Homo sapiens: one gene and its partners. The protein of the gene in region 4 interacts with the protein of the main gene of each other region in a pairwise test. Each region holds a gene or a part of one and is shown on either strand. Other genes may lie near its edges.

Evidence for each region.
Region 1: the proteins of TEX11 (region 4) and RIBC1 interact in binary tests that used the Homo sapiens proteins (3 or more experiments, as listed by UniProt).
Region 2: the proteins of TEX11 (region 4) and CEP85L interact in binary tests that used the Homo sapiens proteins (3 or more experiments, as listed by UniProt).
Region 3: the proteins of TEX11 (region 4) and COL20A1 interact in binary tests that used the Homo sapiens proteins (3 or more experiments, as listed by UniProt).

The regions. Positions count from the first base shown.
Region 1 is NC_000023.11:53,425,873-53,431,643, forward strand, and holds the end of RIBC1 (RIB43A-like with coiled-coils protein 1), read left to right. Parts: intron 1-404; coding exon 405-521; intron 522-2,130; coding exon 2,131-2,212; intron 2,213-2,410; coding exon 2,411-2,755; coding exon of another isoform or gene 2,756-2,790; exon of another isoform or gene 2,791-3,956; intron 3,957-3,981; coding exon 3,982-4,100; intron 4,101-4,523; coding exon 4,524-4,918; coding exon of another isoform or gene 4,919-4,922; exon of another isoform or gene 4,923-5,034; coding exon 5,035-5,116; 3' UTR 5,117-5,243; downstream 5,244-5,771. Other genes in the region: HSD17B10 (3-hydroxyacyl-CoA dehydrogenase type-2), read right to left, coding at 5,532-5,722.
Region 2 is NC_000006.12:118,648,564-118,655,958, forward strand, and holds the start of CEP85L (centrosomal protein of 85 kDa-like), read right to left. Parts: upstream 3,029-7,395; 5' UTR 2,707-3,028; coding exon 2,634-2,706; intron 1-2,633. UniProt on the Homo sapiens protein: Plays an essential role in neuronal cell migration.
Region 3 is NC_000020.11:63,303,185-63,310,212, forward strand, and holds part of COL20A1 (collagen alpha-1(XX) chain precursor), read left to right. Parts: intron 1-2,232; coding exon 2,233-2,376; intron 2,377-2,696; coding exon 2,697-2,855; intron 2,856-4,305; coding exon 4,306-4,464; intron 4,465-4,786; coding exon 4,787-4,906; intron 4,907-5,357; coding exon 5,358-5,522; intron 5,523-6,148; coding exon 6,149-6,313; intron 6,314-6,570; coding exon of another isoform or gene 6,571-6,573; coding exon 6,574-6,731; intron 6,732-7,028. UniProt on the Homo sapiens protein: Probable collagen protein.
Region 4 is NC_000023.11:70,898,687-70,905,714, reverse strand, and holds part of TEX11 (testis-expressed protein 11), read left to right. Parts: intron 1-7,028. UniProt on the Homo sapiens protein: Regulator of crossing-over during meiosis. Involved in initiation and/or maintenance of chromosome synapsis and formation of crossovers.

The DNA of each region.
Region 1 (5,771 bases), about 17 Mb from region 4:
AAGAACCTTATAAATCTGGCAAAGGGGGTTGGGCCTTATAAGCACTGGGGAGCCATTGCTTTAAAGGTGCTTTCAAAGGCTTTACGCTGAGGAGTGCCATGGTCAGATTTGCTTCCCAAAGATCACTCTGGTAGCCAGTGCAGAGAAATCCAGTGCAGAGAGGGTAACGTTGGAGCAAGAGAACCCAGTGGGGCTCCTGAGATACTGCCTGACACCAGATTGTGAGGCCTGAATTAAGCTGGTGACAGCAGAGATGGAGGGCACAGATACGAAATATATCAGGAAGTAAAATCAGTAGGAATCAATAACTGCTGAAATATTATAGGGAGAAAGGAATGGGGGTGGCGTGTAGTCAAAGACGGTGGTCGGCACTGATGGGCCATTCCACCTCCCTTTTGCTCCAGATGTATAACATAAAACAGTCAACAGATACCAAGGAAGCAGCAGCCATCGAGGCTAGAAGAAATCGAGAAAAAGAGCGACAAAACCGATTCTTCAATGTGCGGAACCGAGTCATGGGGGTGAGTGGGTAGTAGGGACTGTTGCTCAGGATCAGGGCCACCTCACTCTTACACCTGGAGAGGAATGTGTAACAGTGCCCATGATAGCCCTTCCCCTGATTCAAGTAGGCCCCTAGGGCAGGAAAGGAAAGAGAGGGAGAGAAGGCACCCACCCCTACAGGCCTGGGAAGAGCTTGGGAAGAGGGATAGGTCAGTGCAGGGGAAGAGACTAGGGGAGACGGCTGACCCTTCTCCAGTCAGCTCTGGGCCATGTGACCTGGTTCTTGAGACAGGCAACATGGAGCTAAAAGAGGCCTAAAGAATATTTGGAGTCCGGGTGCAGTGGCTTACACCTGTAATCCCAGCACTTTAGGAGGCTGAGGTGAGCAGATCACACAAGGTCAGGAGTTAAAGACCAGCCTGGCCAACGTGGTGAAACCCTGTCTCTACTGAAAATACAAAAATTAGCTGGGCGTGGTTGTGCATGCCTATAATCCCAGCTACTTGGGAGGCTGAAGCACAAGAATCACTTGAATCCAGGAGGAGCAGGTTACAGTGAGCCGAGATCACACCATTGCACTCCAGCCTGAGCAACAGTGAGACCCTGTCTCAAAATTACTGCATATACCTAAACTATCTCTGCAAGGCTATGTTGAGAAACTTAACCAGGCTGAGAGACAGAGATGGAAGGGACACTTACGCCTCACTAAACTGTATTCCTTTTTGTATGATTTTGAAATGTGATAAATGAATTATAATAAAAGAGAAAATATTGATAGTTTAAGAAACAAAAGATTGCTAGGTGAGTGGATAGAGGGGGGATGCAGCATGGTATTCTGGAAAAGACCCCGTAAGTATTTAAGGCCAGGTCTGCTGACTGTTATGTGTGTGGCTTTGGATAAATCACCTGTCTTCTCTGAGCCCCAGGCTCCTCTTCTGTAAAATGAGGCTGAAGGAAGTCAGGTGAGTGTTAACACAGAGTGGCAGCTTTGAAAACCAGTGCATAGTGCCTGCCGTAAGAAGTTGGCTAGGGTATTAGTGTTCTGATTGAGATCCAGCTGACAAGCTGACAAGCATTTCCTCGGGGCCTGCTCTGTGCCAAGCACTGTGTTGGGCAGTGGGGATACGAAAATGACTAAGGCCCAGTTTCTGCCCTGAAAGGGTTCACAGTCTGGTGGAGGAGAGAATACAGAGAGGCGAACATCAATATAATGTAGACAGTGGGTTCTAGATTCTACAGGAGTAGAACCTGCCTGAGGGGTCAGGAAAGTGAAGGCTGAGCTGGTCTCGAAGGACAAATTGGAATTTGTGTAAAGAGGGGAGGAAAGTGTTCCAAGTGGAGGGAGCAGCTTGAGCAAAGGCTATTGGTTCAAAACAGCCTAAGATATTCAGGGAACTGTAAGCACAGCTCATAAGGGTAAGGTGGGACTAAGAGATGAGGCCAGAGAAGGAGGCAGAGGCTAGACCATGGAGAGGCTTACAAACCATGCTCAGGAGCTAGAACTTTATCCAGTAGGTACTGGGGAGCTACAGGATTCTGAAACAGGTAAATTCTAATTAGTTTGTGGTAGGACATTGAAGGCCCCCTGCTGGGCCCCTACTCTGATTGTGCTCCTTTCTTTGGGATCAGGTGGATGTCCAGGCCCTGAACAACCAGGTGGGAGACCGAAAGCGTCGGGAAGCAGCAGAAAGAAGCAAGGAGGCAGCTTATGGTAAAAGCCAAAAGCCAGGGGCCAGACAAGGGTGTAAAGAAAGAGCTCGAGTGGGCTGAGGTAGGGCAGTTCTGCCTCTGTGGCCTGAGGCCCTGGGGTGGTGGGACAAATTGGATGGACCTTGAGAGTAGAGGACATGCTAAGTGGACTCTGTCCCTCCTGGGGTATCTTCTCCATATCCTTGCTCACCACCCCCAGGTACCAGCCAGGTGCAGTATGATGTGGTAGTCCAGATGTTAGAGAAGGAAGAGGCAGATCGAACACGTCAGCTGGCCAAGAAAGTCCAGGAGTTTCGGGAGCAGAAGCAGCAGCTCAAGAACGGGCGTGAATTTAGTCTTTGGGATCCAGGCCAAGTCTGGAAGGGGCTTCCAACCTATCTTAGTTACAGTAATACCTATCCTGGTCCAGCCAGCCTGCAGTACTTCTCTGGGGAAGACCTAGACAGGGACACACGGCTGAGAATGCAGCAGGGGCAGTTCAGGTACAACTTGGAAAGGCAACAGCAGGAGCAACAGCAAGCCAAGGTTGATGAGAATTATACAGGTAAGCAGCCCGGCCCTCCAGACTCAGAGACCTGAGGCCTAGTGGGGATCTGTCCTAAGCTGAGTACAGCAGCCAGGGGACCAGAACTGTGTGGGGAGGTCCACTTATCCATAGGGTTGGTGCTGAAATGTTAGGTTGTGCAGACCCCAACCTCCCTGACTTCCTTCAGTAACTGACAGTGTAGCATTGTTCTTGATTAGTTTGGCACTCCATTACGTGGAGGCAGCACAGTGCAGACAGACCTAATGGCTCTGCCACTTACTAGCTGGTTTGGGCAAATGAATTTTCCCTTCTGTGCTTCAGTTTCTTCATCTTTAAAATGAGAATAATAATTTATACCACATAGAGTAGCTACTATTATGATATTGTCTGTGGCCACATCCTTCTCTTCCATTAGAAGAAGCCCTTCAAGGGCAAGGACCATGTCTTATCTACTTGCACTGTTCACCCTTCACATCAACCCTGTTACAGCACTCTGTTCTGCTGGACCACTTATTGTAGTTGTAGCTAATTGTGAAAGTATTTGTTTAATATCTGTCTTCTCCCTAAAATGTCAGCCTACTGAAGATGAACCATCTCTTTCATGTCTACCCATCTCCCAGTTGCATAGTACAGTGTCTGACAGGTCTTAGGAACAGCAAGGAGCTCAGTGTGGCTGGAGCAGAAAAAAATTGTCAGTACCTTTGCTCATGCCATGCCCTCAGCCTGGAATGCCCTTTGCTCTTTTAGCCTGTATACAAAATGTATTTCAAGGATCACCTCTTCCTGGAAGCCTTCCTCTTTTCCACCATCCAAAACCCTCTTAATACCCTGTGTACATCCCTGCCATTGCTCTTGCCAGATTGTGGTCTATGTTTGATCTGTGTCCCCAACTAGACAGGGAGTTCTCTGAGGACAGGATTTAATTCGATGGTATCATTAGAACCCAGCACATGGCCCTTAGACTGAGATTCAGAGATATGAAATGATTTACCCAAAATCACACAGCTCAGAAGCAGCAGAACTGACATTGGGACCCAGGTCCATTGGAGGCATCTTTTAGTTATGCGCTTGAGAAATCGTTGTTGCTGCACCTAGTTCCTTCCACATCCCTACAACTCGGACACTAACCCCCTCCTAAACATTCGTACACACACAAACACAAAACTTGCTGAACAAATGGCTGGATGAGTGAAACAGGAATGGAGCAAGCCAGTACAGTACCCCGGCCATATTTCTCTGTGTAGATGCGCTCAGTAACCAGCTGCGCCTCGCCATGGATGCACAGGCCACCCATCTGGCCAGGCTGGAGGAGTCCTGTCGTGCGGCCATGATGTGTGCCATGGCCAACGCCAACAAAGCGCAGGTATGGCCTGAGCCATGCAGTACCTTGGGCTCTCCCCAACTCCTGAACAAAATCCTGGAGAACCTTAGCCATATTCTTCCTCTTACATCCCCTCTTAAATCAGCATCAGCCCTCTCATCTGAGTACTCCCCCTTCACTGAAGGCCCCTCTTAGGGTACAAGTCACTTCTCCCCACCTCCAGAAGCAGGATGACTTGAGAATAGAACATTGCCCTCTCATCCTCCGCTTCCCAGTCTAAAGGCTTCCTGAAGGCAGAGAAGTTCCCTGCCCATTCTCCCCAACACATATTAGGGGCATTGAAAGGCCATGCAGTATCTGTTCTTTCTCCTTGAGATGGAAGAGTAGGGCCATGTTCCCCCCTCCCCTGTGACAGAGTTCCCTGAGGTTGGGCACCCAAATGTTTGCATTTGGGGGCTCCACCAGGCAGCTGTGCAGGCTGGGCGTCAGCGCTGTGAGCGTCAGCGTGAACAGAAGGCCAACCTTGCGGAGATCCAGCACCAGAGCACGAGTGACCTACTGACTGAAAACCCCCAGGTCGCCCAACACCCTATGGCTCCCTACCGGGTCCTGCCCTATTGCTGGAAGGGCATGACTCCAGAGCAGCAAGCTGCCATCAGGAAAGAGCAGGAAGTACAACGCTCTAAGAAGCAAGCACACCGTCAGGCTGAGAAAACACTGGATACTGAATGGAAAAGCCAGACCATGAGCTCAGCCCAGGCAGTGCTGGAGCTAGAAGAGCAGGAGAGGGAATTGTGTGCTGTATTTCAAAGGGGTCTAGGATCCTTCAACCAGCAGCTGGCTAATGAGCAAAAAGCCCAGTGAGTTCTAGGTGGTAGTGGTGGAGATAAATGCCAAGGGAGGGAGAGGAGGGATGGTGAGGAACCATGGAGAGAGGGAAAGCATGTCAGCTGAGACCTCTGGACTTCTTTCACAGGCAGGATTACCTGAATTCAGTAATCTACACCAATCAACCTACAGCCCAGTATCACCAGCAGTTTAACACCAGCAGCCGCTAAGTTCAGGATGTCTATCTCTCTCTCCCTTCTCCTCCATCAAGCTCACAGGTGGTTAGGAGTCAAAGAGAAAAATGCTGCATACTCCCACCTTCTAACCTAGGTAATAAAGTTCTGCACTCAAAATCAAGTCCACATGTTGTAACAGGACACAAAGTATTATGAAGGTACTGCCTTTCCCACCCCACCCTGGAGCTCTGAGCATCCAACCCTGTCACAGCCTTCACATTTCTTCCCCATGCCAGGCCCCCTAGCACACAACACTGCCTACACTCTGTGAGAAAAAGAGACTTTATTAGGCACAGAGGGCGACTGGTAGGCAGTTACAAAATGGCTACTGGGCTTCCTCCCAAGCTGGAGAGTAGTACCCCAGGGAAAGGAAGGGCAGAGGAGCGTGTGTTTTCTCTGCCTTCTCCCTTCAAGGCTGCATACGAATGGCCCCATCCAGCCGGATGACCTCTCCATTGAGGAATGGGTTCTCGATGATGGCCTGTACGAGGTGAGCATACTCAGCAGGGTCACCCAGTCGGCTAGGGAAGGGCACTTGGCTGGCCAAGAAGTTGCACACTTTCTCTGGGAGGCTGGTCAGCAGTGGGGTGCCAAACAGACCTAAACAATATAGCCAAATTCAGAGACTCACCCTTGCTTTCATGATTAC
Region 2 (7,395 bases), on a different chromosome or scaffold from region 4:
ACCCCGTCTCTACTAAAAATACAAAAAAATAACCCGGGTGTGGTGGCGGGAGCCTGTAGTCCCAGCTACTCGGGAGGCTGAGGCAGGAGAATGGCGTGAACCTGGGAGGCGGAGCTTGCAGTGAGCCGAGATCGCGCCACTACACTCCAGCCTGGGCGACAGAGAAAGACTGTCTCAAAAAAAAAAAAAAAAAAACTAAAGTGGTTCTATAGTACCTTTGGCTTTTCCTTTAGTCTAGTTATATATTTGTATAAACAAATAAACCAGTTTCAGGACAGCTTGAATTAATCCACATATTAAGATAAACTCATTTTAATACCAGAAATTATTTACTTATCCCTGCCTTCACACTTTGTTTTCAGACAAGTCCAATTTTAGGGCTGGAATAATTGCTCAAATTATTCAAAAGATATACTGAACAATATTTCAAAAATAAAAATTTCCTTCCAATTATCAGGAAAAAAGGTCCCTACATGAATCAACTCAGAGGTCATTATCTTGACCTTCACCATCTGCTCACTTGCACAAGAAGCAACACAAGTTTTTCATCTAAGGTAGAACTTTTTAAAACTTAAAATTATCTAAGATAATTTTAAATATTTATATTTGCTCAAAAAGGGAAGAAACACAATAAATAATTACATTACTATTTCAGCATGTAACTGAAAAAAAACTTTACAAAGGCATGTCCTGACTTGTCAATAGTTTATTACTGACAAATTGAGATAAAATACATACTTTGGTACAGCTATACTGTCCAAATTTCTTCAATTAGGGTAGTAATTACAAAGTATCCTCTTCCACTATTATTCTATGCCATAGCAAATGTCTCTCTAGAGGCTGCAACATAACAAAGTCCTTCGTTACCTAACTTTAAATACTAAAATGTTCTCTTCTTCCTAGAAAACAATGAAAAATAGACACCATGCCTCAGTGATATACCTCCAAACAAGCTGCTATTATCACGAATAAATTTTAATAGGTTAGATTGCAAAGACATTACAGATGGCTTTTGACATTTTCAGATAAACTGAAACCACTCCCTCCAGCCCCTAGGGATAATGAAGTAGCTTCTCAATCACTGAAGTTACTTAGATGACAGGATTTGTGAATAATCTGTAAACTCGGGAAACCTCTGAACTGTCTCCTTAGGACAAATAACATACAATTTAGAAAAAAAAAATCCCTACTTAATACTGCTTTTTACTAAATTCATGCCTACATTAAATTTCAGGATCAAACTTAAGTGAATGATTCAAATCATTCATTAACATACATTAAGTGTTTCAGGACCAAACTTAAGTGAATGATTCAAATCTAACTCTGGCTTTTTAAAATGTACATATGTCTTTTTAAAAACCACACATCACAAATATCTAAACTATCAAAGAATTGCATTATTCGAAATTTCAATAGCCTGATACTAGTGACTCGGTCAGTGCCTGATTTTTTTTAAATAGCAGAAAATATTACCATCAAAAGACCCCTTTCCAAATGCTGCTTCTGCTTTTTTGTTTTGTAAATAACAGCTTTGGAAATGTATGCAAAAATATCTCTAAGTTACACAAGTCGAGCTCAAACACTTTGTGGAGCAAGGTTACTTAACAGGAGTCCCAGAAACAGCTAAAATTGTAGGGAAAATTTTGCGTATGTATATATGGCATTGTTTTTTCTGCGCAGAATGTCCATATAACTCAGTTTCTCAAAAGGCCTCAAAACTCAAGATTAAAAGTGCCTGGAAAGACCATCATCTTTAGAGAACATATCACAGGCAACCCAAGACTTATTTTTTATCCCAAGTTAGGGGAGGATTTATCCTAATTTTGTGGCTCCTACACAACTTCTGAGCGACGCAAGCATGAAATGGCTGTCCGATACAAACAGACCCCTTCAGATACGGAATGCAGCAAACCCCTAATTTTCCTTGAAGGGGCCACGGAAAGCCAAACGGATTCGTAACCCGGTTGCTCAATGGTCCATTGGCTACTGCAGGACGCGCCCTCCTCTTACGCCGCAGGGGCTGCGGGGCGGCGACCAGGTTCCTCCGAGGGGCTGAAGTTCCCTTGGGGGTGGCTGAGAGCGGCCGCATCTCTGGCAGCATCCTCCCTCCCGAAAACGCGCCCTAAAAGTAGCGGCTGCGGGCGTGGGCACAGCCAACCCCAGCCTGCGCCTACCAGAAGTCGGGAGGGCGCGGAACTGCGGCCCCTCCGAGACGCGCCCGGGCCGCCGCCGCAGCACTGTCGCAGCGACCTTCCCGCCCGGGTCCCCGCGAGCAAACGGGCAAGCCCCGTTATCACGCAGGTCACACACCCCACGAGTAAAAGGAAAAAACCGGGCAGACAATAAAGCCCAACCCGCGGGGGCCCAAGCGAGCTGGAAGTTGGGGGCGCTGGGGCTGCAGCCCAAGGAGGAGCGGCGGGGACGACGGGATGCGGGGCTGATGCGCCTGGGACGCGGCAAGCCATATGTCAGCCCGGGTGCTGACAGCGGGGAGGACACTGGGCACGCGGCGGCGTCGGGGAGGCGGCCGGGGTAAGACAGGCCTGAGGCGGGAGGGGAGCGGCGGCGAGGTCCCGAGGCGCCGCGGTCGGCCGTGACCCCCACCCCAGCCGGGGCGCTGTCCCGTTCCTTACCGGCAGGGAAGCTGCGGGCTCCGCCGGGGCTATCCCGGCCGCTGGCCTCCGGAGCCAGGAAGCGCCCCCACATCGCGGGCGAGAGGGCCGGGTGGGCCAGGGACGCCCGACTCCTCACGTCCGTCCTCCTGCTTCTTCGGCGGCGGAAACTTGCGCGGAGCGTGGGCCTCGGCGACACGGGCAGGAGGAAAGGCGGGATGGCTGGTTAACGGCTGCTCAGCTACGGGCGGGGAGCGCAGGGGCCAGATTCGCCGCACTGCCGGCGCCTGCCATGGCCAAGCCGGCTGGGCTGAGGCCCGCGCCGGGGAAGCGGCGACTCGGCGGTGACGGCTGCTAGATCCCCGGCTGAGCCCAGGCTCAAAGGCTCCAGGCGAAGTTGCAGCTGCGGGTTCTCTCCGCCCCCTCCGCCGGCAGAGCCAGAGCCGGGGCTGGGGCCGCGAGGGGGCGGGGCCTCGGGCAATGACTTCAGGCGTGCGCGGCGCCGCGCGGGGCGGGGACTGCGGGGGGCGGGGACTGCGGGGGGCGGGTGAGCTACCCCGACCCCGCTTCGCCTCCTTGGCGGCGACTGGGCTGTCCCGCCCTCCCGCCGCATCCCTCTGTCTCCATCCTCCCGCCCTGCGAGTTGAGTAGAGGGCAGCGACTTGGCCTATTTTGCGATACTCGCCCCTCCCTTGGGTAATCCCTCACGCCCTCCCTCCGGGCACCTCTGTGAAGACACGTGGAAGACCTGCCCCTGGCGTCACAACCGCTCGAGATGAAAAAGCCAAGCCAGGGCGCGGCTGAGGGGGCTTCCAGCCTCCCTTGGAATTAGGATTGGGATTTAAATCCTCATCTGTATTCCTTCGTTTATAGATTACTTTAGGGGCAGAAAAGGGGTGGTTTTCCTTTACTAATTTAATGGGGGCGTGGGGGCAACACAGGCACCAGAATATAGCACCGGGATGTGCACCGGAAAAGGCCCGGGGGTAATTAGTACCCGAGGGGGAGAGGGGCCGTCATTGTAATCGCACAACGTTTCAGATTAGCAAGCAGAAAGTAAAAATGGCACCAAAGTCTGTAAAGGGAGCCCTTTCCTCCTTGCCCCCTACTCCTTCACGTTCTTCCTCTTCTTGGCCAGTTTCCACCCTTCACCTGAACCCTTAGTGCAGGAGGAGACGTCCTAAGGAAGGGCGAAAAGGGACAGCATCGTTTTATTTTTAAATCTTACTTCTCACTGGCAATATGGTGATGCTTCCAACGTTTAGTTACGAACTAGTTCGTATAAAAAATTCTGGGCCAGCACTGTGGTGGGAGGCGGGCTCTGCAGTAGGCCCATCACTCAGAGGTAAGTCGGAACGCAGGTCGCTTAACTAGAGAGGCTTTGAGTTCCGCTTTTCCTGTTCTGGAATCTTGCTAACAAAGGCCTCATATTTGCATTTTTCCCTTAAAGACATTTTAATTGGGAAATACTACTTAAAATTCTTGGAAGTTAAATTAGATTTAGGTGTGTGTTCTATCACTTACCACATCCGTGTTGTAATTTATCTGATTGGAGTTTTACATTTAGTCTCCCTGTGGTAGACTTCCAATTATTTCTCCAAATCATGTAATGTTAGCCAAGGGTCAGCTGTTTCTGATGATAAAAAGATACAGAAACATGAAAGACGAATGTGATTGGTTCCTTTTTATTATTTTAATGTGCACTAGCTCGTTTTATCTAACACTTGAAGAGGATAGATTTTTTTAAGTCCCAAAAAGAAAATTAGCAGAAGCTATAGCACTATGTATAGATTTTTTTTTCATGCTTTGTAGTTACCACAGTCTCAGGAACAGAATTTTTGAAATTCATTTGTGATGCAGTTCTAAGAAGTGTATAAAATATTACAGAAATATCTTGGCCTTTGCGAGTTTAAAATACACTTATTATTTCAAAACTGCCAATTTCCTAATTCTAAACAGTGTTTAAAGAAAATCGTTTACTCGGGTTTTCTACATCTTTTTATCAATATAAAGGGCATGCTACTACACACAAAAAAAGTACATGCGAAGGTGAAAGTATCTAAAATATTTCAATATCTATTACAGAGTAAAAGCAAACAGTAAAAACATGTTGCTCTTTTGGCACTTGGCACCAAATATGAAATTTTTGTGTCCCTAGTAATTAAACTTGGGAGGATAGAGGGCTAATGCAATTAGAACTAATTGAAATACTAAGTGAGAATATTATGTTGCTAAAGTATCCATTTCTTTTAATCATATGAATTCTGAGTATATACTGAACTAATGCTTCCCCCCAAATCCATGATACATGGATGATATGTACATGGTATGATACAGCCATGGTTTTCAGAATGATTAAAATTTATCATAACACAAGTTGGAGAACCTAAGGACTATCTAACCATTACTAAACCCCATGTGGTAAACTGCCATATTTTTGTTTTGTTGTGACAGTGTGTTAGGACTACAAGGAGAATTTTAAAAGCAAAGACAGTTATCGTTGAACCTCAATAAACCTCAATCTTGGCAGTTGTTCTGTGCAGATATAAGTAATGAAAATAGTGACTCTGTGTATGTGTGTGTGTGTGTGTGTGTGTGTGTATAAGTATCATTGCTCAGATGAAATTAGGATATTTAATGTTTTGGGAGGGGACTTTTTAAGAATATAAACTAGATCACAAAAGAAGAAAATAGTACTAAAAATGCCACATTTAATACCAAACTATATTAAACTATTTGTTTAAAATGTCTCATTTCAAAAAAAGACATTATTTAAAACTGAAAAATAAGTGTTGCATTTATAATTCTTAAATTTGTATATAAATCTTTGAACTGATTAAGTTGAGCTATCTTACATGTGTTTTTCTGATTCAAATTTATCAGATTGTGCAAACATCATCTACAGAACTGAAGAGGGATATGACAATGAATAAAAGTGATATTTTTAAATTAGAAGAGCCAGGTGCAGTCACTCATGCCTGTAATCCAGTGCTTTGAGAGACCAAGGCAGGAGAATCACTTAAGCCCAGGAGTTGGAGGCTGTAGTGAGCTGTAATGATTGTGCCACCGCACTCAAGCCTGGGCAACAGAGCAAAACCCTGCCTCTAAAAAATAAATAAAATGAGAAGGAAACCCCATGCATAATATGAGGAAAGCTCAAGAGAGCTTTATATTTACAAAAATATAAAATATATAAATAGCAAAAGAACCCAACAATATGTAGGAAAAGTAAACCAACCAATAACAATTGAAATAGTTCCTAAAGAACTATTGCTACTACATAGAAAGAGATTTATGAATGAATTCTAAAAGATTCCAAGGACTAGACAATTCTTGTATATCAAGTGTGTATCAAGGACCATGCTATACAACCTCTTCCAGATCACAAAGGTGACAAGTTATCCAATTATTTGTGGATTGTTGTAATCCCAAAAATCATTTATAATTTAAAAAAACACTCTTTCTTTTGAAGATGGATTTGACTATCTTAATTGGATCCCTGGCAGGTAGAATTCAAATAGGTGAATGGAAAACAAATAGGTTACTTAACCTGTGCCTCAATTCCCTTACCTGTAAATTGGGGATTATAATGATAACTGCCTCACAGGATTGCTGTGGGGTTTAAACATGTTAATCTTTGTAAAATAGTTAGAACAGTGTATGTGTACATCCTATATTGGTAATACAGACAAACATACAATTTAGAAATGTAACTGTTATAGCTCACCAAGAAAAAATAACATTCATTGGTATAGGCCAGGTCAGTTGTAGATGATAATTTATATACATGTATCAGAATAAAGTAGTGACTGGGATCTTTTCCTGACCCTTTGGGGTTACTAATTAGTCCAGGAATTATGGTGAAATAGTACACTCTTAACAAATATATACCAAATTTTTGGGAGCCAAGTTCATAGAAACCTTCATTCTAGGCTGTGATTTCCTACCCAGTGCTACCAAAATAAAGGAAGGAAAATTAGGGAGAGGTAGCTAGGTGGTATGGCGAGGCCAAGACAAGGACACCTTATCTCAAGTCCCTGATTCCTGGGAGGTACAGAAAATGAATCTCACCTGTACCTTTGACTCCAGAGTTGGGTTGCAATAACCAATAAGAAAGAAGGTATGATATGGACCACTGAAGCAGTCCTTGGGATAGGAAGTGGGTGTGGGAGGGATAGAATTCTGCCAACAGATGAAGTCTTCCAAAGGACCATCAATGTTTTCAGGAACTGCTTAGGACTGACATCTTTGTCAATGGAACTTATTATGGTAACCACCTGGTCATCCTGAGCGTATGAAAAGAGACAAGATCATTTACTTGTTTGGGACAGCAACCTGGACAGTGCATAAGAAGACAAATTCTTCCCTCCCTGCCTGCTTTTTCAGACACTGGAACAGTAAATAGAAGGTTGGAAGTGTGGATTCAAGAAAGCAGATCATGCCTTCACACACAAACCCACACACAGCCTCCTACCTGACCTGCCCTGGTGGGGAAGAGGACTGTTGAAAGCTGAAAATGTTCAAAATGTTGGGGAATTGGATTGAGATGTACTCAGTGGAAAAGGGGATTTTCAACAGTGTACAGCTGGCAGTGTTATTGGGGGAGAAAAAACTTTGAGTATATACTTCCAATGATTTGAGACTTCTCACTAAACCAGTTACCTATTTTATGTTGAGTAGTTAGTAATACCTCCATTTTACAGATGGGGAAAAAAGACCAAAGAGAAGTTAGGGAAGGTCACACAGGAAGTAAAGAGCTAGAATTCAAATCTGATCCATGTGA
Region 3 (7,028 bases), on a different chromosome or scaffold from region 4:
TAGAACATCACAATAATATTTATCCCATTTTCAAGCACTTGTGTTTATTTATTGATTTTTGAAATGGGGTCTCACTATACTGCCCAGGCTGGACTCAAACTCCTGGGCTCAAGTGATTCTGCCACCTCAGCCTCCCAAGTAGATGGGATTACAGGCATGCCCGGCTTTTAAAATTCTATATTTATATTAAATGTCATAAAACTTTTTCATTATTGTCATTGCTTGTTAATCACGTGTTTGTGCAGGAAGCCTTGGGAATATGACAGACCTGGGCTTCTATCCCACTTCTACTGCGGAGTAGCTGTGTGATTGGTCCTTTGTGCCTCAGTTTTCCTATCTATAAAATGGGTGTAATGGAGTTGTGAAGATTATGAGGCTTGATACCTGTGAAATGCTTAGGATACTGCCAGGCACACAGTGAAAACTCAATAACAGTTAGCTGTTGATGGTAATGACAACACCCCTGCCTCCCATTTGCTCAGCCAAGAACAGAGGGTCCTCCCTGGCTGGTCACTCCCTGGCGCGGGGCTGGGTAGGGCTGTGGGGAGCCACTCACTGCACAGGGAGGATGGTGTCCCTTTTCTTTCCAGGTGTGCAGGTGTGGGTTCCTCCCTCCCTTCCTCCCTCCCTCCCTCCAGGTGTGCAGGTGCTGGCTCCTCCCTCCCTTCCTCCCTCCAGGTGTGCAGGTGTGGGTTCCACCCTCCTCTTCTCCCTGCAGGTGTGCAGGTGTGGGTTCCTCCCTCCTCTTCTCCCTGCAGGTGTGCAGGTGTGGGTTCCTCCCTCCTCTTCTCCCTGCAGGTGCGCAGGTGTGGGTTCCTCCCTCCCTTCCTCCCTCCAGGTGTGCAGGTGTGGGTTCCTCCCTCTCTTCCTCCCTCCCAGTGTGCAGGTGTGGGCTCCTCCCTCCTCTTCTCCCTCCAGGTGTGCAGGTGTGGGTTCCTCCCTCCTCTTCTCCCTCCAGGTGTGCAGGTGTGGGTTCCTCCCTCCCTTCCTCCCTCCAGGTGTGCATGTGTGGGTTCCTCCCTCCCTTCCTCCCTCCAGGTGTGCACGTGTGGGTTCCTCCCTCCCTTCCTCCCTCCAGGTGCGCAGGTGTGGGTTCCTCCCTCCCTTCCTCCCTCCAGGTGTGCAGGTGTGGGTTCCTCCCTCCTCTTCTCCCTGCAGGTGCGCAGGTGTGGGTTCCTCCCTCCCTTCCTCCCTCCAGGTGTGCAGGTGTGGGTTCCTCCCTCCCTTCCTCCCTCCAGGTGTGCAGGTGTGGGTTCCTCCCTCCCTTCCTCCCTCCAGGTGTGCAGGTGTGGGTTCCTCCCTCCTCTTCTCCCTGCAGGTGCGCAGGTGTGGGTTCCTCCCTCCCTTCCTCCCTCCAGGTGTGCAGGTGCTGGCTCCTCCCTCCCTTCCTCCCTCCAGGTGTGCACGTGTGGGTTCCTCCCTCCCTTCCTCCCTCCAGCTGCGCAGATGTGGGTTCCTCCCTCCCTTCCTCCCTCCAGGTGTGCAGGTGTGGGTTCCTCCCTCCTCTTCTCCCTGCAGGTGCGCAGGTGTGGGTTCCTCCCTCCCTCCCTCCCTCGAGGTGTGCAAGTGTGGATTTCTTGCCCTTTTCTCCCTTGCCTTAGCACTTGAGACCCAGAGAATCACCCAGTGCTCACAGTGCCTCTCCAGGTCTGACTGCTGCCTCCTGAGTGCTCTTTCAAGGCCATTTCTTCTTGCTCTTTCCTCTGAGAATATGGCAGTGTCCCCTTTGGAATCATTTGTTTGCTTTTCACACTTGAAATCCAGACCTAACTTTAGAATCATGGAGTCACACAGCAGAAAATACTTGCGGCTGGTCGGTCCGTGCAGCCCATAGGGTAGGAGCCTGTGGGAGTGGGCAGGGCCCTGGCCCCGGACTCTTCCTTCTTGGACCTGGCCCCTCGGGTCGTCATCCCCTCCCTGGGCAGCCCTGTCTTCATACCTTGACAGTATCTCTGAGGGTTGATGGCTTCTCACCTCACCATGCGGCGGATTCCTCTAGGGGGGTTTAGTAAGTGACATCTTCTTTTCACCGCCCCAAGACCCCCATTCTCTGTCACATTATTACCCAGGAGCCCATGTCCCTTCCATCAGACCCTCTCCCTTTCTGTCTCTCTGGCTTCAAGGGGAGCAGCTGGGGTGGGGAGGAGGAGCCAAGAGGGTTTCACTCCCCGCCGTGACAGATGCACACACGTGTGCACCTTGGCCTCTAAAGCTCTCCCCACCCCTACCCAGGGGACTCGGAACAGGAGGTGATACTGACCACCAAGACCCCTAAGGCCACAGTGGGGGGCCTGAGCCCCTCCAAGGGCTACACCTTGCAGATCTTCGAGCTCACTGGCTCTGGGCGCTTCCTGCTAGCTCGGAGGGAGTTTGTGAGTAAGTCCACCGTCTGCCAGCTGGGTACCCACTCCTCCAGGCCGGGTCCCACCCTCCTCTGGGCTGGGGTCCCACCCTCCTCCAGGCTGCGTTCCAGCCCCAGGGGTGGGTATGTGTGAAGCAGTTCTGGGCTGTGCTAGGGGCAGGTTCAAGTCCCGACTCACCAGCAAGGCTGCCTTGCCCCTGACATCTTTGCATGCCTCCCAGGCTCCTGGGCCCTCAGCACCCACAGATGCGCCCTTGAAGGGGTGTATGTGCAGCTGCCCCAGTGGACCAGGCCCTCCACTCCCACCCTGATGGCTCTTTGTGTCTCCCTGCAGTTGAGGATCTGAAGAGTAGCTCCCTGGACAGGAGCAGCCAGAGGCCCCTCGGCTCTGGAGCCCCGGAGCCCACCCCCTCCCACACGGGGAGCCCAGACCCTGAGCAGGCTTCTGAGCCCCAAGTTGCCTTCACACCAAGCCAGGATCCGCGCACTCCTGGTGGGTCAGAGTGGAGAGAGAGTAAGTCTCCGGGGAGGGAGTGACCTTTGGTTTCCCACATTTCCCACCATGAGGCCAGGAAGTTCTTCCTCGTGTCTGACCACACGGTCTCTGACCACGAGGCCAGGAAGTTCTTCCTCGTGTCTGACCACACGGTCTCTGACCACGAGGCCGGGAAGTTCTTCCTCGTGTCTGACCACACGGTCTCTGACCACGAGGCCGGGAAGTTCTTCCTCGTGTCTGACCACACGGTCTCTGACCACGAGGCCGGGAAGTTCTTCCTCGTGTCTGACCACACGGTCTCTGACCACGAGGCCGGGAAGTTCTTCCTCGTGTCTGACCACACGGTCTCTGGCTTTAACTTAAAGTTGCCATGTTCCCAGGTTCACTCAAGCCAGGCCACTGGGAGCAGGTGGTCCCACTACCTCTGACCCCTTTGGGAACCTCCAGCCTGGGTCTAGGGGGTGGTGAGAGGGGTGGGTCATGCTCCCCCAGGAGTGGGATCAGGAGCAGAGCTGGTCCGGGGGCCCTGGAGGGAGGGCCCTGCCCAGCCGGCCCCAGGCGTGGAGAGGTAGAGCCACACCAGGACAGAAGAGAAGCCAGGTAAGGGGTGGGCACAGACGGGGGCAGTGCACTGTGTCTGCCCATAAGGCCCCCGTAGGCAGGGCTGGGCTTCCCCATAGAACTGGGAGGGCCTGGCTTTGTCTCCTCCATCAGACTGGGGTCCTCAGAAGCAGGATTCTACCTCCCCCGTCAGACTTGGAACTGAAGGAAGTGTTCTCCTCAGACTTGGGCATATCCCCTCCAGAGGGTCCTCGGGTCCGCTGCTGTCCTCCCCTCAGGGTGCTGGGCTCTGCTGGGTCCCCTGGACTTGGGCTCCCCCAGGGGAGTGTCCCCACCCATGCAGGCCTCAGGGCAGCTGGGCCTCTTCGGTCGCCCCACGGGGGGCTCCACCGTGATGGCTGCTGGCCTCGTTCAGGCATCTCCCCGGGGGTCTGGCCCTGGCTCTGGGGCCCGCCTCACCAGGCACTGCTCCTGCAAAACCCCGGGGAGCGCCAGACCGGGGATGGCGGCTTTGCCTCCACAGCGCCGCGCTGCGGTGCTCACGGCGGCTCTGCTGGGGCTCTTTGTGGTGCCCACCCTCCCCTCCTTGCCTGGTTTGCACCTGGTGGGCTTCTGGGCCTGATGTCTGGGCGGGCAGCTGCATGCAGCCGTGGAGGGCAGAGGTGCCCGAGCACCAGGCTGCCTCACATTAGCGGTGGCTCGATGTGCAGCCGTGCCGGTGTGGGGCTGTCTAGTCCGGTGAGGCCTGAGGGCCTTGGAGTCCTTTCCCCTGAAACCTGGCCCAGCCTGCCTCACTCTTGTGGCTGGAGCCCCGGGGTAGGTGATCTGGGGGCCTTGGACCAGGGATGGGCCTCACCTAGCACCTGACCCGCTCCCACCGCCCCAGCCGGCCCCCAGTTCCGCTGCCTGCCCCCCGTGCCTGCTGACATGGTCTTCCTGGTGGACGGGTCCTGGAGCATTGGCCACAGTCACTTCCAGCAGGTCAAGGACTTCCTGGCCAGTGTCATCGCACCCTTTGAAATCGGGCCGGATAAGGTCCAAGTAGGTGGGTGCTGGCCCGGCCCGCCTCCTGCCCCACCCGGGTGTGGTCCCCACAGCTCTGCCAGAGGAGGCTGTGACCTGTGGGGGTCCCCGTACCAGCCAGGGCTCTCACCTTGTGGGGTGGGACGCCTGCTCCACATGGGGTGTTCTGGGGACCCCTCCGTGTGGAGGCCCTGGCTCTGCAAGCGTCCTCTCCCTGGGGACTGGCTACTGTGGCCAGGTGACCCCACAGAGGCACGTGCAGCTCTCAGGTGTGGCCTTGTGCCAAGCTCCCTGGGCATCTCAGCATTGGAAACTCAGCCCGTGGCCATGCCCCTGCTCCCCAGGCCTGACTCAGTACAGCGGGGATGCTCAGACTGAGTGGGACCTGAACTCCCTCAGCACCAAGGAACAGGTGCTGGCAGCTGTGCGCCGCCTCCGCTACAAGGGGGGGAACACGTTCACAGGTACGGCCCAGGCCTGCCCCTCCCTCTGTCCTGAGGGCGGACCTCCTTCTGCCGCCCTCCCAGATCCCGAAAGCTTGTGTGTAAATCGAGCTCCAAGTGGTGTGGACCTGAGCCCTGTTCACACCTTTATAGAGGGCAGAGTCACCCCCTTGTTTACCTTTGATGAAAACGAGGGCCTGTGTCCAGCGCGTGGCTCCTCTGTTCCACATTAGCAGCTCTGGCTGGGTCCACACCCGGCCCAGTCTGGGTGCTCACCTTGCAGGTAGGGTCTGGCTGGGGAACTTGGGGCCCTTCAACAGGTAGACCCTCCCTGCTCCCTTGGGCTGCTGCGGGGCCTCCTGATACCCCACAAGGGAAGGAGAGGAGCATCTCTGCTGTCCGGTTGCTGCCAGCCGAGCACCAGGAGGGGATGCTGGCAGCTGCCTGTCACTTTATTCCTGCTGCTCCCAAGGCCTTGCCCTGACCCACGTGCTGGGGCAGAACCTGCAGCCGGCGGCTGGCCTCCGTCCAGAGGCAGCCAAGGTGGTGATTCTGGTGACGGACGGCAAGTCCCAGGACGATGTGCACACTGCTGCCCGTGTCCTCAAGGACCTGGGCGTGAACGTCTTCGCTGTGGGTGAGCACCATGCGGCTCCCCCGGCCCTGGAGTCTCACCGCCGGGTGGGTTTAGGGTCGCAGCAGGGAGCTTGCATTGGGCACCTGGTCCCTGAGCCCCAGCTTCCACATCTGCGGCACGGAGCTGCACGCAGAGCCAGGCACCGCCTGGCACTCAGAGGCGATGGCACAGGCGGGCTGCTCCTTTCCAATCGCCTGGTGTTTGGTGCCCTCCGTGGAACCACCCCAACCCTCCCCCTGTGGCGTGAACTTCCCTGGTGAGATATTCACTGAGCAGCTCCAGCTGCCCCCTCTGGCCACCATCCCTGTGCCTGGTGACTCCCGCCTGCTGTGCCCTGGCAAGGAGCTTCCTGGCATCCTCCAGGGCCTGGGACTCACAGGCGAATCAACTCTGTCCTGTGGGGAGGAAACCCCAGATTTCGAGGCAGGAGTCCCAGGAGCACAGACCCTTCCTTGATGCCCCCAACCCCTCGGGAGCGCCTGGCCCAGCATGTGGGTGGCAGGTGGGCCGAGTACAGCCCATAGGCCTCTTTACTCCTGACCCAGTCTCCATGGAGACCCCCACCGCAGGTGGCCCCGTCGGGTGACCCCAGTGCAGGCCAACCCCACCTCCCTCCTCACGAGCAGGTGTGAAGAACGCCGATGAGGCTGAGCTGAGGCTCCTGGCGTCCCCGCCGAGGGACATCACCGTCCACAGCGTGCTGGACTTCCTGCAGCTCGGCGCGCTGGCTGGCCTGCTCAGCCGTCTCATCTGCCAGAGGCTCCAGGGTGGGAGCCCGCGGCAGGGCCCAGGTGAGGGGCAGGGTCACCCGCACAGGCTGCAGCCCCCCCGGCTGCTTTGGGCAAAGGGTTGGGGGGACGCTGTGGCTCCCGTGTGGTACCTGAGGCCGGCTCCTGTGGCTCTGAGGGGGTCTGCAGCACCCCCTTACATCTGTCCACAGAAGGGCTGGGGAGCAGCTTTCCTGTCCCTCCTGTGAGTGGCCACCAGGGGGAGCGTGGACACAGCTGCCCGTGCAGTGACCACCTGCCCCCCACTCCCGCTACTCCAGCAGCAGCGGCTCCAGCCCTGGACACCCTCCCTGCCCCCACCAGCCTGGTCCTGAGCCAGGTGACCTCCTCCAGCATCCGCCTGTCCTGGACTCCAGCCCCCCGGCACCCCCTCAAGTATCTGATCGTTTGGCGAGCCTCTAGAGGTGGCACCCCCAGGGAGGTGAGGGGGCCGGTATACAGGGCTCCCCGAGCCGGTCCTCAGCCGTAGTGAGATCTGATAAGCCAAAGGGAGGGCAGGAATAAAGGCCCACAAATAACTGGGTCCAGGCTGAGAAGGGGGTGTCGAGGGGCTGACAGCCCAGGGACTCACTGGGGAGCTGCGTCTGGGAGGCAGCCTGGGATGAGTGCATTTTAGTGGCCGAGGAGGGCAGAGCAGGGGGCGTTCCGAGGGTGCTGGGGTTAGGGTCAGACTCAGAGCGCCTTCTCCCTTTGATTGATCGATCGATGGATAATTGTG
Region 4 (7,028 bases):
ATGAGTAGTATTTCATTGAACCTAAATGTACCACAATTTATTCATTCAGTCTCCTTTGTTGGACATAAAAATGGTTTCAAATATTTGCTGTTAAAAACAACAATGCTACAACGAACACTGTGTTTCTGAGAGTTTAACAGAAACTTTCAAAAACATCTTTGACTACCACTCATGGCAAGAAAATGTTTTGATTACATCCCAGTACATACATACTGTGTCAAAAGTTTAATAAAACAAAATTTTATCCTCATTACATGCAGTACACTATGATATTTTCTATTCTATTTTTCTCATTAAAAAAATGCTGGGTATTCAGCAAAGGTCTGACTGAAAAGAAATGCTGGGTATGACTCACTACCTCAATACATTGACTGATTTTTTTTTTCTTTTGAGACAGAGTCTCACTCTGTCGTCCAGGCTGGAGTGTAGTGGCACGATCTCGGCTCACTGCAACTTCCACGCCTCCCGGGTTCAAGCAATTCTTCCGACTCAGCCTCCCGCGTAGCTGGGGCTACAGGTGCATGCCGCCACGCCTGGCTAATTTTTTGTAGTTTAGTAGAGATGGGGTTTCGCTGTGTTGCCCAGGCTGGTCTGGAACTCCTGAGCTCAGGCAATCTGCCCGCCTCGGCCTCCCAAAGTGCTAGGATTACAGGTGAGAGCCACTGCTCCTGGCCTTGAGCCACTGCACCCGGCCTTGATTTATTTCTTGAGCTACTGGTAGGTGAGGCTCTAGGGCAGTGCCGTCCAACTGACATGGTGCAAAAACAAAAAATTTTATATTTTCTAGTAGTCATATTAAAAATGTTTAAACAGATGAAAATAATTTTAATGATCTAATTTTTTTAACTCAGTGTATCAAAAATGTTATTATAACATAATCAATATACAAATTATTAATAAGTTATTTTACATTCTACATTTTTTGGTACAAAGTCTTTGAAGTCTGGCATGTATTTTATACTTAAAGCACATCTCATTTTGGATCAGCCACATTTCAAGTGCTCAATAGTCACATGTGGCTAGTGGCTACCATATTGGACAGTGCAGTTCTAGAGTTTACATTTGGGAGTGTAACTGCTGAGTCAAAAGCTATGAGCATCTTTAACTTTATAGATATTGCCAAATTGCTGTCCAAAATGGTCTTAATTCAAACTCCCTTTTCCCCATATCCTTACTAATATTTGATATTGTCAGACTTTTAAAATTTTACAATTTTGAAGACTGTTGTCATTTTTATTTACCATTTTACTTTGGAATAATTTTAGATTTACAGAAAAGTTGCAGAGATAGTGCAGAGAGTTCCCATATACTCTTCAGGCAGTTTCATTTTCCCAAATGTTATCATCTTACATGGGTGTTGTTTTGACTTATATTTTCCTGATAACTAGTGAAGTTGGTGTACTTTCATAGATTTACTGGCTGTTTGAGTTTTCTCTTATGCACACATAAACTTTTTAGTCAAGTTTTATAAAAATGGAGCATAAAAGCCTATCCAATGGCTTTTAGCAATGGCTATAGTTCATTCCTTCTTAGGGAGAATTGACATAACACCAGTCTTTTTTGTATCACCAATCTCAATAAATTTTCAAGACCAAGGCCAGGCCTGGTGGCTCACGCCTGTAATCGCAGCACTTTGGGAGGCTGAGGCGGGAGGAATACTTGAGCCCATGAGTTTGAGACCAGCCTGGGCAACAGAGACCCTGTCTTCACCAAAAAAAAAAAAAAAAAAAAAAAAGCTGGATGTGGTGTTGCATGCCTGTAGTAGTCTCAGGAGCCAGAGGTGGGAGGATCGCTTGAGCCTAGGAGGTGGAGCCTGCAGTGAGCCTTGATTGCTCCAGCTTGGGTGACAGAGTGAGATCCTGTCTTAAAAAAAAAATTCAAGACCAGGAAGGAATAGAAATTTGTCTAGATAATTACACCCACTGGGGCTAAATAAATGTAACTCCTTTTCTGCATGTCATCTTCAACTATTTGAAGATAACTTATCTTGTACCCCGGAAAGTGTCTTCAGATTGAGCATTCTCAGTTTGTTCAAACATTCCTGATATTACCTGGTTTCTAGTCCCCTTATCATTTTGTGTGCTATCCTTTAAACATGCTCTATCCTTTTCGTGTTATTTCTTAAAGTGTGGTACCCAGAATAGAACACAATTCTCTATGTTTGATATGATCAGCATAAAATACAGTCATGTGCTGCATAATGACATTTCAGTCAATAAAGGACAGCATATACAACAGTGGTCCCAGAAGATTTTAATGGAGCTGAAAAGTTCCTATCCCCTAGTGATGTCAGAGCTGTTATAAAGTTGTAGAGCAATGCTTTATTCATGTGTTTGTGGTGATGCTGGTGTAAACAAATCTACTGTGCTGCCAGTTGTTTAAAACTATAGCACGTACATTTATGTACAGTACATAATACTTGATGGTGATAATAAATGACTATGCTACTGGTTTATGTATTCACTATACCATACTATGCTATCTTATACTATTTTTTTATCATCATCTTAGAGTGTACTCCTTCTATTTATAAAAAATAAAGTTAACTGTAAAATGGCCTCAGGCAGTTCCTTCAGGAGGTATTCCAGAAGGCACTATTATCGCAGTAGGTGACAGGTCCATGCATTTTATTGCCCCTGAAGAACTTCCAGTGGGACAAAACGTGGAGGTGGAAGACAGTGATAGTGATGATCCTGAGCCTGTGTAGGCCTAGGCTAATAATGTATGTGTTTGTGTCTTAGTTTTTAACAAAAAGTTTAAAAAGTAAAATTAATAATGTTAACAGAAAAAAGCTTATAGAATAGGGATATAAAGAAAGAAAATATTTTTGTACAGCTGTATAATGTTTGTGCTTTAAGCTAAGTGTTACTACAAAAGCGTTAAAAAGTTAAAAATAATTAAAAAGTTTGTACTTTGGGAGGTTGAGGCGGGCAGATCACTTGAGCTCAGGAGTTCGAGACTGGCCTGGGTATCATGGTGAAACCCTGTCTCTACCAAAAATACAAAAAATTATCATGGCATGGTGGCACGTGCCTGTGGTTCCAGCTACTCTGTGGTCCCAGCTACTCCATAGGTTGAGGTGGGAGGATTGCTTGAGCCTGGGAGGCAGAGGTTGCAGTGAGCCGAGATCGCACCACTGCATTGCAGCCCCAGTGACAGAGTGAGACCCCATCTCAAACAAACAAACAAACAAAGCTTATAAAGTAAAAAAGTTACAGTAAGCTAAGGTAAATTTATTATTGGAGAAAGAAACATATTCTTTTATAAACTGAGTGTAGCCTAAGTGTGCAGAGTTTATAAAGTCTACAGTAGTGTACAGTAATGTCCTAGACCTTCACATATATTCACCACTCACTCACTGACTCACCCAGAGCAACTTCCAGGTCTGCAAGCTCCACTCATGGTAAGTGCCCTATACAGGTGTACCTTTTTTTATCTTATAAAAATTTATTATTATGTTATTTGAGGTAGGGTCTCACTCTCTCACCCAGGCTGGTGTGCAGTGGTGTGATCGTGGCTCACCACAGCTTCTACCTCCTGGGCCCAAGTAATCCTCCCACCTCAACATCTTGAGTAGCCGGGAATCACAGGCATGCACCACCATGCCCAGATAATTTTTAATTTTTCTGTGGAGACGGGATCTCCCTATGTTGCCCAGGTTGGTTTCGAACTCCTGGGCTCAAGCGATCCTCCTTCCTCGGTGTCCCGAAGTGCTAGGATTACAGCTGTGAGCCACCGTACCCAGTCATTTTTAATCTTTTATATTTTTACTTACCTTTTCTAGGTTTAGATATGTTTAAATACACAAATACTTATCATTGTGTTACAGTTGCCTGCAGTATTCACTACAGTAACATGAGTTATAGGTTTGTAGCCTAGAAGCAATAGGCTATACCATATAGCCTAGATGTGTAGTAGGCTATACCATCTTGTGTAAGTACACTCTATGACGGGGTCCTCAACCCCTGGGCCACGGACCATTACCTGTCTCTGGCCTGTTAGGAACCTGGCTGCACAGCAGGAGATGAGCCCTGGGCCAGCAAGCATTACCGCCTGAGCTCCGCCTCCTGTCAGATCAGTGGCCAGTGGCATTAGATTCTCACAGGAGCCTGAACTGCCCACACGAGGGATCTAGGTTGCATGCTCCTTATGAAAATCTAACTAATGCCTGTTGATCTGAGGTAGAACAGTTTCATCCCGAAACCATCCCCCCACCATCCGTGGAAAAATTGTCTTCTACAAAACTGGTCCCTGGTGCCAAGAAGGTTGAGGACCACTGCTCTATGATGTTGGGACAATGACAAAAATCACCAAATTACACATTTCTGGAATGTATCCCTGTCCTTAAGTGATGCACGCCTGTAATCTTTCTCTTTAGATTTAGGACTGATGATTTTTCTCTTTAGATAATAATATAGCTAAGACTGAATTTGCTTTTTCTTTCTTTCATACCACGCTAGTTATTCATTTTGAACTTTTTGCCCCCCAAATCCCTCAGTCTTTTTTAAGTATTTATTTATTTATTTAGACAAGGTCTCACTCTATTGCCAGGCTGTAGTGCAGTGGCGCTATCCTCCTAGGTTCAAGCGATCCTCCCGCCTCAGTTTCCTGAGGGAATATAGGCATGCGCCACCATTCCTGACTAATTTTTGTATTTTTGGTAGAGACAGGGTTTCACCATGTTTCCCAGGCTGGTCTCCTGAGCTCCTGAGCTCAAGCGATCTGCCTGCCTACTGGCCTTTTTTCTAGATTTTTCTTTCTTTCTTTTTTTGAGGCAGAGTCTCACTCCATTGCCCAGGCTGGAGTGCAGTGGCATAATCTCAGCTCACTGCAACCTCCACCTCCCAGGCGCAAGCAATTCTTGTGCTTCAGCCTCCTGAGTAGCTATGACTGCAGGCATGCCAGGCTAATTTCTGTATTTTTAGTAGAGACAGGGTTTTGCTGTGATGGCCAGGCTGCTCTCGAACTCCTGGCCTCAAGTGATCCACCCACCTCAGCCTCCCAAACTGCTGGGATTATAGGCATGAGTCACCACTACTGGGCTTCACTGATCTTTTATATATATATATTTTCATTTTAATTTCGTTTATTTCTATTCTGGTCTTTATTATTTCTTTTCTTCAACTAACTTTGGGTTTGGTTTGCTTTTGCTTTTCTAGTTGTTTAAGATGCATCATTAGGTTGTTCGGAGTTTTTCCTCTTTTTTGATGTAGGCACTCATAGTGATAAACTTCACTCTGTATCCCATACGTTTTGGTATGCTGTGTTTCCATTATCATTTGTTTCAAGAAAATTTTCAATTTTCTTCTTCTTCTTCTTTTTTTTTTTTTTTTTTTGAGATAGAGTCTCCCTCTGTAGCCCAGGCTGGAGCGCAGTGGCACGATCTCTGTTCACTGTGACCCTGCAACCTCCGCCTCCCGGGTTCAAGCGATTCTCCTGCCTCAGCCTCCCAAGTAGCTGGGATTACAGGCACCCACCATCACACTTGGCTAATTTTTGTATTTTTATTTTAACTAATTAATTAATTAATTTTTTGTTTGTTTTGAGACAGAGCCTCACTCTGTTGCCCAGGCTGGAGTGCAGTTGCACCATCTCGGCTCATTGCAACCTCTGCCTCCCAAGTTTAAGTGATTCTCGTGCCTCAGCCTCCCAAGTAGCTGGGATTACAGGCGTGCACCACCACTCCTGGCTATTTTTAAAAAAATATTTTTAGTAGAGACCGGGTTTCACCATGTTGGCCAGGCTGTTCTGGCCAACATGGTGAAACTCCTGACCTCAGGTGAGCTGCCTGCCTCAGCCTCCCAAAATGCTGAGATTACAGGCATGAGCCACCACACCTGGTCCTTTTTTTTTTTTTTTTTTTTTTTTTAATACAGGACCTCTCTTTGTCACCCAGGCTGGAGTGCAGTGGCATGAACGTATAGGTATGCACCACCACGCCTGGCTAATATTTGTATGTTTTGTAAAGACTGGATTTTGCCATGTTGCCCAGGCTGGTCTTGAACTCCTGAGCTCAAGTGATCTGCTTGCCTCGGCCTCCAGATTACAGGAGGTGCTGGGATTACAGGTGTGAGCCACGGTGCCCAGCCTCTATATTTTCTTTTTCTATTATATTTATGATGATTGTTAGGGAGGTAGACATTAGCTAATTTGTTTCATCAAGTCTTCAGAATATAGTTCCAATGTATACTCAATACCAGCCCTGTCCAGTAGAAATATAATGTGAGTTAGAAATGTAACTTAAAATTTTCTAGTAATCACGTTTAAAAAGTAAAAATAAATAGGTGAAATTAATTTTTAATATAATAATAATTTTAATGCTATAGCCCAGCATATTCATACATTTTTGTTCCAGCATATAATCAGTATACAAAATTGCTGAGATATTTTACTTTCTTATTTTAAACTAAGTCTTTGAAACCCATGTGTATTTTACAATTAAAGCACATCCCAATTTGAACTAGCCACATTTTAAGTGCTCAGTAGCCATATATTGCTACCATATTAGAGAGTGCAGATCTAGACTAAAAAGTTTAGTAGTAAAACTCAGTCAAGATAATTGGCTTTCATTGAATCTCAAAGGACTTTATTTGTAATCTTCCCTGAACTATCTTTTCCTTTAAATACAACAATGGGATCCTCAGATTAAGAATGACAGAGTTATTAGGAAATATCCCAAGACAGGGCCACATAGTTTAGAATCATGAGCATACTTATTTTACAGCCTGTACAGAAATCTTACAGATAATCAGTGAGATAATCACTGATGCCACCTGGTATGCACCTATTAGGGGGAATAGTACAGTTTATGGCCGGGTGCCGTGGCTCACGCCTGTAATCCCAGCACTTTGGGAGGCCGAGGCTGGTGGATCATGAGGTCAGGAGATCGAGACCATCCTGGCTAACACTGTGAAACCCCGTCTCTACTAAAAATACAAAAAATTAGCTGAGTGTGCTGGCGGGCACCTGTAGTCCCAGCTACTCGGGAGGCTGAGGCAGGAGAATGGCGTGAACCCGGGAGGCGGAGC